Regions from separate parts of the Homo sapiens genome. Here region 2 is linked to region 1. Evidence: fine-mapped expression QTL. A gene starts in region 1. The other region holds a variant in brackets. All regions are shown on one strand. Distances are between the middles of the regions.

What was found.
Region 2: its variant is fine-mapped to the expression of NMB in naive CD4 T cells (Schmiedel 2018, PIP 0.90).

What each region holds. Positions count from the first base shown.
Region 1 is chr15:84,656,021-84,660,410 of GRCh38, forward strand. NMB (neuromedin B) reads right to left here and starts at 2,179. Exons shown (of 3, transcript NM_021077.4): 1 at 1,976-2,179; 2 at 1,156-1,328. The coding sequence starts at 2,132. RefSeq lists a silencer at 2,135-2,294.
Region 2 is chr15:85,463,081-85,467,470 of GRCh38, forward strand. All of the region lies in intron 1 of AKAP13 (A-kinase anchoring protein 13), which reads left to right. Among named protein-coding and RNA genes, the nearest start is that of AKAP13, 85 kb to the left of the region's middle. The variant A/AT (reference allele first, on the strand shown) is at 2,027.

The DNA.
Region 1 (4,390 bases):
CCAGGGAGCTCACAGACTGATAAGAGCTCGCATCTACTAAGGGCTGTCTATGAGCCAGGCACCATGCTGAGCATTTGACATAAATGGTCTCATTTAATGGGAGATGGGCCTTATTATCTTCATTTTATGGGTGAAGAATATTGAGGCTTTAGAGAAGTTAAGGGACATTTCTAAGGTCATACAGCTACTAAGTAGCTAGGTTATGAGCCCAGCACGTTGTAGTCAAAACCCACATTCTACCACATCACACTGCCTTCTGCACACAGCAGCAGGACCAGGGAGGGTGGTGTGCAGTAAGGACAGCACCAGGAGCAGGGAATGAAGGAGTTGCCACTCAGCGGGGCTATACCTTGAGGCTAGCTTGGCTCCAGCTTTGGAGTCTTGAATCCCATAGATCAGTGACTGACAACCAATAATGATTTGGGGCCCTCTCCCCCAGCAGACATCTGGTGATGTCTGGAGGTCTTTTCAGTTGTCACAACTTGATGGGGGGGAAAGATGCTACTGGCATCTAGTATGTAGAGACCAGGGATGCTGCCAAACATCCCATGATGCACACGTCAGCCCTCACAAGAAACAGTGATTCAGCCTAGAACGTCAAATGTACTGAAGTTGCTAAACCCTACCACTGGATACTGAGGCAGATGAGAGAATGGGAAGAGCTCCAGTCCAGGTGAACAAGGTCCAGACTCTGTCTTGGCTGCTGACTTCTCTTTCCCTCTCTGGGCCTCAGGGTCCCATTCCGGCCACAAGCATACACAGGACACAGCAAAGGTGGACTTGACTAATGCAGCAGGGAACAGCATGGGTGGGACAAGACTGTGTAGACTGGGGGAGAAAGGTCCTGCTCCAAAAGGCTGATGATCCCAGTCTGTTACTTTAGACTGGGTGATGAGTCAGGGGAACTTCTTTCCCTACTTCTTGCCCCATGGGGTCTACTGGGAAGGTCAGCTTCCTTTCTTTGGACTGTTCCTCCTTTGAGCTCTGCCTCAAGAGGGAAAAGCCTGGAAACCTGGCTTTCTGGGGTCCACACCCATAATGTCCTAGTCAGACAGTCACACCCTAATACAGTACTGGGTGGTAATTCCTCCCATGCAGGATCCGGGGATGGCCCCAGCTGGGCCCTCCTGACATTGGAGCAGGGGCCCGGCTCACCTGGATTTGGGGTGCGGGGCGGCTGAGGCTCACGCCCAGAGCCTTCTTTAGCAGGAGGATTCCGAGCAGATCATGACTCAGCTGCAGTCGCTGGTCCCTCAGGGAGGTGTGGGGAGCTGTCCCCAATGGGGATGGGCTGGAAGGCTCCAGACTCTTCTTGCCCATGAAGTGACCTGGAAAGGAGGTGTCCAGGCACAAGGAAGTCAAGCAGCCAGGATCCTACCTCAGAGGAAAAGTTCCTCATCTCTCCCACGTTTCCGTTCTTGTAGCGGGAAGACACTTAACCTTCCTCCTCTTGGTGCTTCCACCTCACCAAGGAGCCACAAAGGTGTCTGGGTGGTGGCAAAGCCTGCTCCCTCAGCTTTTCCTGAACAGGTAGAGAGGATGGCACAGCTGGCAGGAAGGTGGGATGGTCCAGGGCCAGGGAGAAACTCTGCTAGTTGTGTGGGCTGCTTGGACAAGGGACGAAAAAGGGCAGGGTAGGAAGTGGAGAGTGAAGAGGCGCCTGGAAAGTGGAGGTGCAGCAAAAACACACCAGCGGTTAGAAGATTCGGTTAAGTCTCGCCTAAGGTAAGGGGCACCGGCTGGCAGTGGGATTTAGGATCTAGCCCAGCCCTGTCTTAAACTGGCTGCGCGACCTTAGCCAAGTCACTGACCTGTCCGGGTCTCAAGTACATATCTATTAAATTAGATGAGCCCCAGGGTTTTCCACCTGCTCCGACACTAGTGTCCGTGGCTGAGGAGCGGCCAGAGGGTTGAGAAGGAAATGGGGTCTGAACTGGATGAGGGGCGCTTGCTTGCTCCGTCCCCAAAGACTTACCGGTGGCCCAGAGGTTGCCTCGCGAGTGCACTCGGATCTTGCTGGCTCGGCTGCGGGGCTCCGGGAGATCCCAGCTGAGCGGGGCGACGCCGGCAGCGAGCAGGGCGAAGAGCAGGAGGCTGCCGAACATCCGAGCGCCCCCCGCCCGCCGGGCCATGGCTGTGCCCGGGCCGCGGCTTCGTTCGGGCGCGCTTCCCGGCCGCTGGGCTCCGGGGCTGCCTTCGATCCTTTTAAATCCGCGCCCCTGGGGGCGGAGCCTGCCCTGAGCAGCGGAGCCGTGCCCCGCGCCCGCCGCCCTCCCCGCCGTCCCCACCCTCCCGCTAGGTTACCAGGCAGGGGCACCCCCTTTGGGCCGCCCAGAGACCTGCACACCCACACTCTGGCCCGCACGCGGGCACCGCTTCCGCCAGGGGCTTCTGGCGGAAGCCCGCCACCTTCAGGCTAAGGACCGGGCACCGGCCAAACAGGGGCCCGGCCCCGGCGGCGGAGCCGCTTCCCCTGGCCCTGCCTTGCCACTCTGCCACGGCTTTCGGCCAAATAGGCACTTCAGCCCTCTGAGCCTCTCTTCATGAGGGTAGAGGTCGGGCGAGGAGCTCTCCTCCCGGGTAACAGGCTTTTTTTTTTTTTTTTTTTTTTTTTTCTGAGACAGGATCTGGCAGTATCGCGCAGGTTGGAGTGCGGTGGCGCGATCACGGCTCACTGCAAACTCAACCTCCAGGGCTGGGCTCAAGCCTCAGCCTCCCCAGAAGCTGGGACCACAGGCACACGCCTTCATGCCTGGCTTTTTTTTTTTTTCTTTCCAAGAGACTGGATGTCGCTAGGTTTCCCAGGCTAACAGAGGCATTTTTACAGTGTCCAGCCAAGTGCTAGGCACCAAAGGACTTCCATAAACTAATCCCCATCACCTCCGCCCTTTGGGGGAATCTGACCCGTGTTCACCTTGCTCTCTGCCCTCTCACAGCCAGCATCACAGTCTGGAAATGTTCTGGCACACAGTAGGTGCTCAGAATGGGAATGCAGAATGATGGAGGGTGGGACAAAGGGCCGCTTCTGAGGAACGGGCATCCAGCTGGAGGGCCTGGCTTATGGGCAGGAAGCAGACCTCTGGGTCAAGAAAGTGGAAAGAGCACTGCACCCAGGACTGCACTGCACCCAGGAGTCCATGTACAAGCTGTGACCCGGCTGAACCTCACTTTCTTCAACTGTAAAATGGTAATAACCACACTGCCCTAATTTTAATACTTTTACATGTTTTAGCATAAGTACTCTGTGGCCGGAAGCAACAATTCTGTAGGACCTGCCCTCTCACACCTGGCACTTTGTTCTCCCCAGGAGCTGTCTGGACTTTCTTGGAAAGAACTTCTGGATAAGTGGTATCATATAATGAGCAGAGGAAAACACTGTGCTCCAGAAGAATACATTTATGTTTGCTTAATTAACTGAAACCCATTGTTCAGAGCACTACACTAGACACAAGAAGAGGGGCGACAGATAATTCCTTGCTCCCAAGGGAGTTAACCATCTCATTGGAGAGACAAGTACACAAAGGAGAGAGTGATGGAGGAGCGGGGGTGCAGACCACCCCTTGGACTCTGGATACCTCTGGAACACGGAACAGAGTGGCCGTACCAGAACCTACTCCCATCTGGCTTGATAATGGGACCTGCTTCTAGGACTCTTGCTTAGTATCTAGCTCAGCAAGGTTGCTAGCTCTGTGGATCCTCATCCTAGAAGGGGAAGCTCACATGAAAAACTGGCTGTCATACCCAGCTGGAGGCCCAGCTTCCAGGAGCATGACACACAGGACAGGGACGTTTCATTTCTGGCCCTGGCTTTCCCCCCAATCTCCTTGCTTCTCACCTCCCACCCTGGCATTTACACCTCTCTGCTTTCTTGTCACAGCTTAGCCATGGTGTACAGATATAGCTCTTATCACCTTCCGGTAATCATTCCTTTGTGACCCCCCTCCCTCTCCTCTGCATCCATCAAACCCCCATCCTATCTTCTCTAGTCCATGGATAATAGAAATTAGCGTGAACACACAGAAGCTGGTATTGATTGAGTGCTGCATCACTTAAATGCTTGAAGGAATCTTATTTGGTAGGTTTCTGTCTCCTCATTTTTATAGGTGGGAACAGGCTAAGAGGTTTAGCCACTTTCCCAGAAGTCCCACTGGAATCAGATTTCAGGTCTGTCTGGACCACTGCATCAGGCCCCCAAATCTATGCAGGGCAGATACAACTCTCCCTAAACCACACCCACTCCCATTGTACCATCTCAAATTTCAACACCAAGTTGTGTTTATGTATCTCAGGAGGGAGAGGGAGTGGGCACTGCATTTCGAGTTTCACCTCTCTTCCACAGGTGACTGGACCTTGAGTTCTGCTAAGGTTATTTATACTTAAGCCAAGCTTC
Region 2 (4,390 bases), 810 kb after region 1:
CAGAGATGACAGAAAAAAATCATCGCACTGTAGTTCAGTAAGAATTACTGAATTTGAAGAACAGAGAGAAAAGGAGATTGAAACAAAATGAACAGAACCTGGAAAATGTGGGACAGTCTTTAAAAGGTCTATAATATGCATGTAATTGGAGTTCTAAAAAGAAGGGAGCATGGGAAAGAAAAAAATATTTGAACAAACAAGGGATGAACATTTTATAAATTTAATGTAGGAATTATGTAGAGATCGTTGCCGTTTGACAAATTAAAAGGATGCTTCTTTCACATTGAGCCTAAGAATAATTTAGGCTTGACTTTCTTCTCCCCAATGATCTGATTTATCAAGCCTGACTGATTTCAGTTGCTGTAGTGTTTCTTTCTGGGTCTTACAGATCCACACTGTTATGAGATCACTAGATTAAATTGCAGCCAGGACTAAATTGCACAAAATGGTAGAATATATGGATGGTGGTTTTTTGAAACATGCCAGGGCTGGTTTCTTTCGGAGATCTGTAGTGAACACTGGATCTTTTTGTGTGTGCTGCTTTTCCCTCTGCCCTTTTTCTTTGCTTTCCTTTCCTGCTACCCTCTTCTTGTTTCTGAGAAAGGGCAAAAAGGAGACTGAAGCATTTGAGCTAGACTGGCTACATCAAAGGCAGTGAGTTCTATTGATATCTGAGTCAGCTGCAACATAAAGCGACTACTGGGGAGGCTTTTGTTGGGTCTTTACTTTTTTTTTTTTTCCCCCTGGGTGATGTTGCTGGTGGCAGTGCTAGGAGTCAGTTGGTAATGAGTCCTTGCCAATGTGCCTTGATTGAAATTTGGAAGCCAGATTCCTGTGATTTTAACCATAACCTTTTTAGAAATGCATACTTGTATGCTCAACAGCCAGGTAGTATGTACTGCGGAAGCCATAATGATTGTTACAGTTTTGAATTACTGCTCCCGAGGCCCTGTTCCTACTTCTTTTTGTCCTAGTTGCTCTTGAACCACCCCGATGATCACTCTTCCCTTTCCCACACGGCGTCTATGATCCAACAACCAAAGGGTTAAAGTCTGGCATGCCTTCCTCTTTTCTGTTTTATCTGACTGGCGACTTTCCTCTTCATAAATACTGAAATATCTCCCTTCCCTGTCCCTGTTGTGCCTGTGCCCATCCTTGTGTGTGCTCTAGTATGTGTTAAAAATAGTTGTTAGAAGTCCAGTTACAGATTTTGGAAGGTAATACAGTCTAGAATTTAAAAAAATGAGCTTTGGATTTAGGTTGACTCCAGAGTTTATAACTTTTGAGCAGTGTCCTTAAACAAGTTCTTTGAGCCCTATTGTCCATTTTCTTGTAGAATATGGATAATATCTATTCCTGAGTTTTGAAACTTAATCTGTATGATAAGCCTTCCACATTCATATTTATTCCTTTGATTTCATTTTGGTTTTATCATAGCCAGTTATCCTAGGTCATTTCTAACTCTCTAGTTTTTGTATAATTATTCTGTTTTAAGGAATTAATTTCAAAGAGGGAGGTTAGAACTGGTAGGTTCTTGTTCATCTGTCTTTACCAAAGAGAAGTCTGAGGCTCAGAGTTAAATTGAGCTGCTCAAGCTTATATAACTCGGAAGCAGTGTAACTAGAATTTAACCTCAGGCAGTCTGATACCAGAGTCAGGACTATTAACAAATTTGTATCAACATCTCTCTAACAATAAGGTTATGTCGGTTTAGAATTTTCAATTGCTTACCCCGTCCCTTTTTCTTCTTTTACTAGTTCTTTAATTTCTAAGGATAGGTTAATGATGAAACCAGAGACTAAACTGTAGTTTTCTCCTAAACCTGCTTGTAATTACCTTTATTGATCTTTAGGCATTAATTACTTTTTTTATTTTTTTGAGATGGAGCCTTGCTCTGTCGCCCAGGCTGGAGTGCAGTGGCACGATCTCGGCTCACTGCAAGCTCCGCCTCCTGGGTTCATGCCATACTCCTGCCTCAGCCTCCTGAGTAGCTGGGACTACAGGCGCCCACCACCACGCCTGGCTA[A/AT]TTTTTTTTTTTTTTTGTATTTTTTTTTAGTAGAGACGGGGTTTCATGTGTTAGCCAGGATGGTCTCGATCTCCTGACCTTGTGATCCGCCTGCCTCAGCCTCCCAAAGTGCTGGGATTACAGGCGTGAGCCACCACGCCCGGCCAGGCATTAATTACTTTTTAACCTTGCTGTATATATCTGTTCTTTAGTAGGCTAGAGATCTTTTAAAGGCAAATATTTGGATCTTAGTCATTTTTAAAAAAAATTTTATTATTATTATACTTTAAGTTTTAGGGTACATGTGCACAATGTGCAGGTTAGTTACATATGTATACATGTGCCATGCTGGTGTGCCGCACCCATTAACTCGTCATTTAGCATTAGGTATATCTCCTAATGCTATCCCTCCCCCCTCCCCCCACCCCACAACAGTCACCAGAGTGTGATGTTCCCCTTCCTGTGTCCATGTGTTCTCATTGTTCAGTTCCCACCTATGAGTGAGAACATGCGGTGTTTGGTTTTTTTGTCCTTGTGATAGTTTACTGAGAATGATGATTTCCAATTTCATCCATGTCCCTACAAAGGACATGAACTTATCATTTTTTATGGCCGCATAGTATTCTATGGTGTATATGTGCCACATTTTCTTAATCCAGTCTATCATTGTTGGACATTTCGGTTGGTTCCAAGTCTTTGCTATTGTGAATAGTGCCGCAATAAACATACGTGTGCATGTGTCTTTATAGCAGCATGATTTATAGTCCTTTGGGTATATACCCAGTAATGGGATGGCTGGGTCAAATGGTATTTCTAGTTCTAGATCCCTGAGGAATCGCCACACTGACTTCCACAATGGTTGAACTAGTTTACAGTCCCACCAACAGTGTAAAAGTGTTCCTATTTCTCCACATCCTCTCCAGCACCTGTTGTTTCCTGACTTTTTAATGGTTGCCTTTCTAACTGGTGTGAGATGGTATCTCATTGTGGTTCTGATTTGCATTTCTCTGATGGCCAGTGATGGTGAGCATTTTTTCATGTGTTTTTTGGCTGCAAAAATGTCTTCTTTTGAGAAGTGTCTGTTCATGTCCTTTGCCCACTTTTTGATGGGGTTGTTTGTTTTTTTCTTGTAAATTTGTTTGAGTTCATTGTAGATTCTGGATATTAGCCCTTTGTCAGATGACTAGGTTGTGAAAATTTTCTCCCATTTTGTAGGTTGCCTGTTCACTCTGATGGTAGTTTCTTTTGCTGTACAGAAGCTCTTTAGTTTAATTAGATCCCATTTGTCAATTTTGGCTTTTGTTGCCATTGCTTTTGGTGTTTTGGACATGAAGTCCTTGCCCATGCCTATGTCCTGAATGGTAATGCCTAGGTTTTCTTCTAGGGTTTTTATGGTTTTAGGTCTAACATGTAAGTCTTTAATCCATCTTGAATTAATTTTCGTATAAGGTGTAAGGAAGGGATCCAGTTTCAGCTTTCTACATATGGCTAGCCAGTTTTCCCAGCACCATTTATTAAATAGGGAAGGATCTTAGTCATTTTTGAATCCTTTGGCAGATTCAGTTTTGTATCCCTCTTCCCATTTGTACTGTCTAGCACTGCATCTTATTCATCATAATGGGCACACAGTACTTTTTATTGGTGACAGTGATGACTTGAATAAAACCTTTGAAACACCAGAATAAGCTTTTAAATTTTTGCTCAGTTGTTAAGCTTTGGAATCTTGGAATTAAGAGAAACTTAAAGATCCTTTGATCTTTTTCCTGGTTAATCTTCTTTAATTTTTGTCCACTGCTATTTTTACAACATGATTTTTATTTTGTTTACCATCCCTTCACTTTGTTCCCAACCTTTTAAAAATTTTATCTGTGTCTGTCTTGGTGGGTTCCCAGCATGGACCATTATATCCTAGGTTTGTTAAGTAAATAGTAATTTGGAATCACTCATTACCTTCTCTGCATTGGATACTACATCTATTATTGTATTAACTACACACACACACACACACACACACACGTATGTAACTCAATCATCCGTGTATTAGTGCACACCAACAATCTTGGCACCCATTTTATACTGTTGATTATTCATTTGTGAACACTATAGTATATTTTACAAGTGCTTCTGTGCTTTTCTACCTTTATTTGATGTAGTTGATTCTAAATATAGACCTTGCATATATGTATATTCAGTACTTGGTACATGGTAGGTACTCAATAAATGTTTGAGTGATTGTGATTTTGAACTTGCCTACTTTGCGAGCCCTCCTTCCCACCTTTCCGCTTCACAGCATCCTCATATTACCTTGTGATCTGTTCCTACTGGGCCACCATTAATTGTTCCTTTAAAGAGCCATGAGTTATTTGTGTCTCTGTGAACATACAC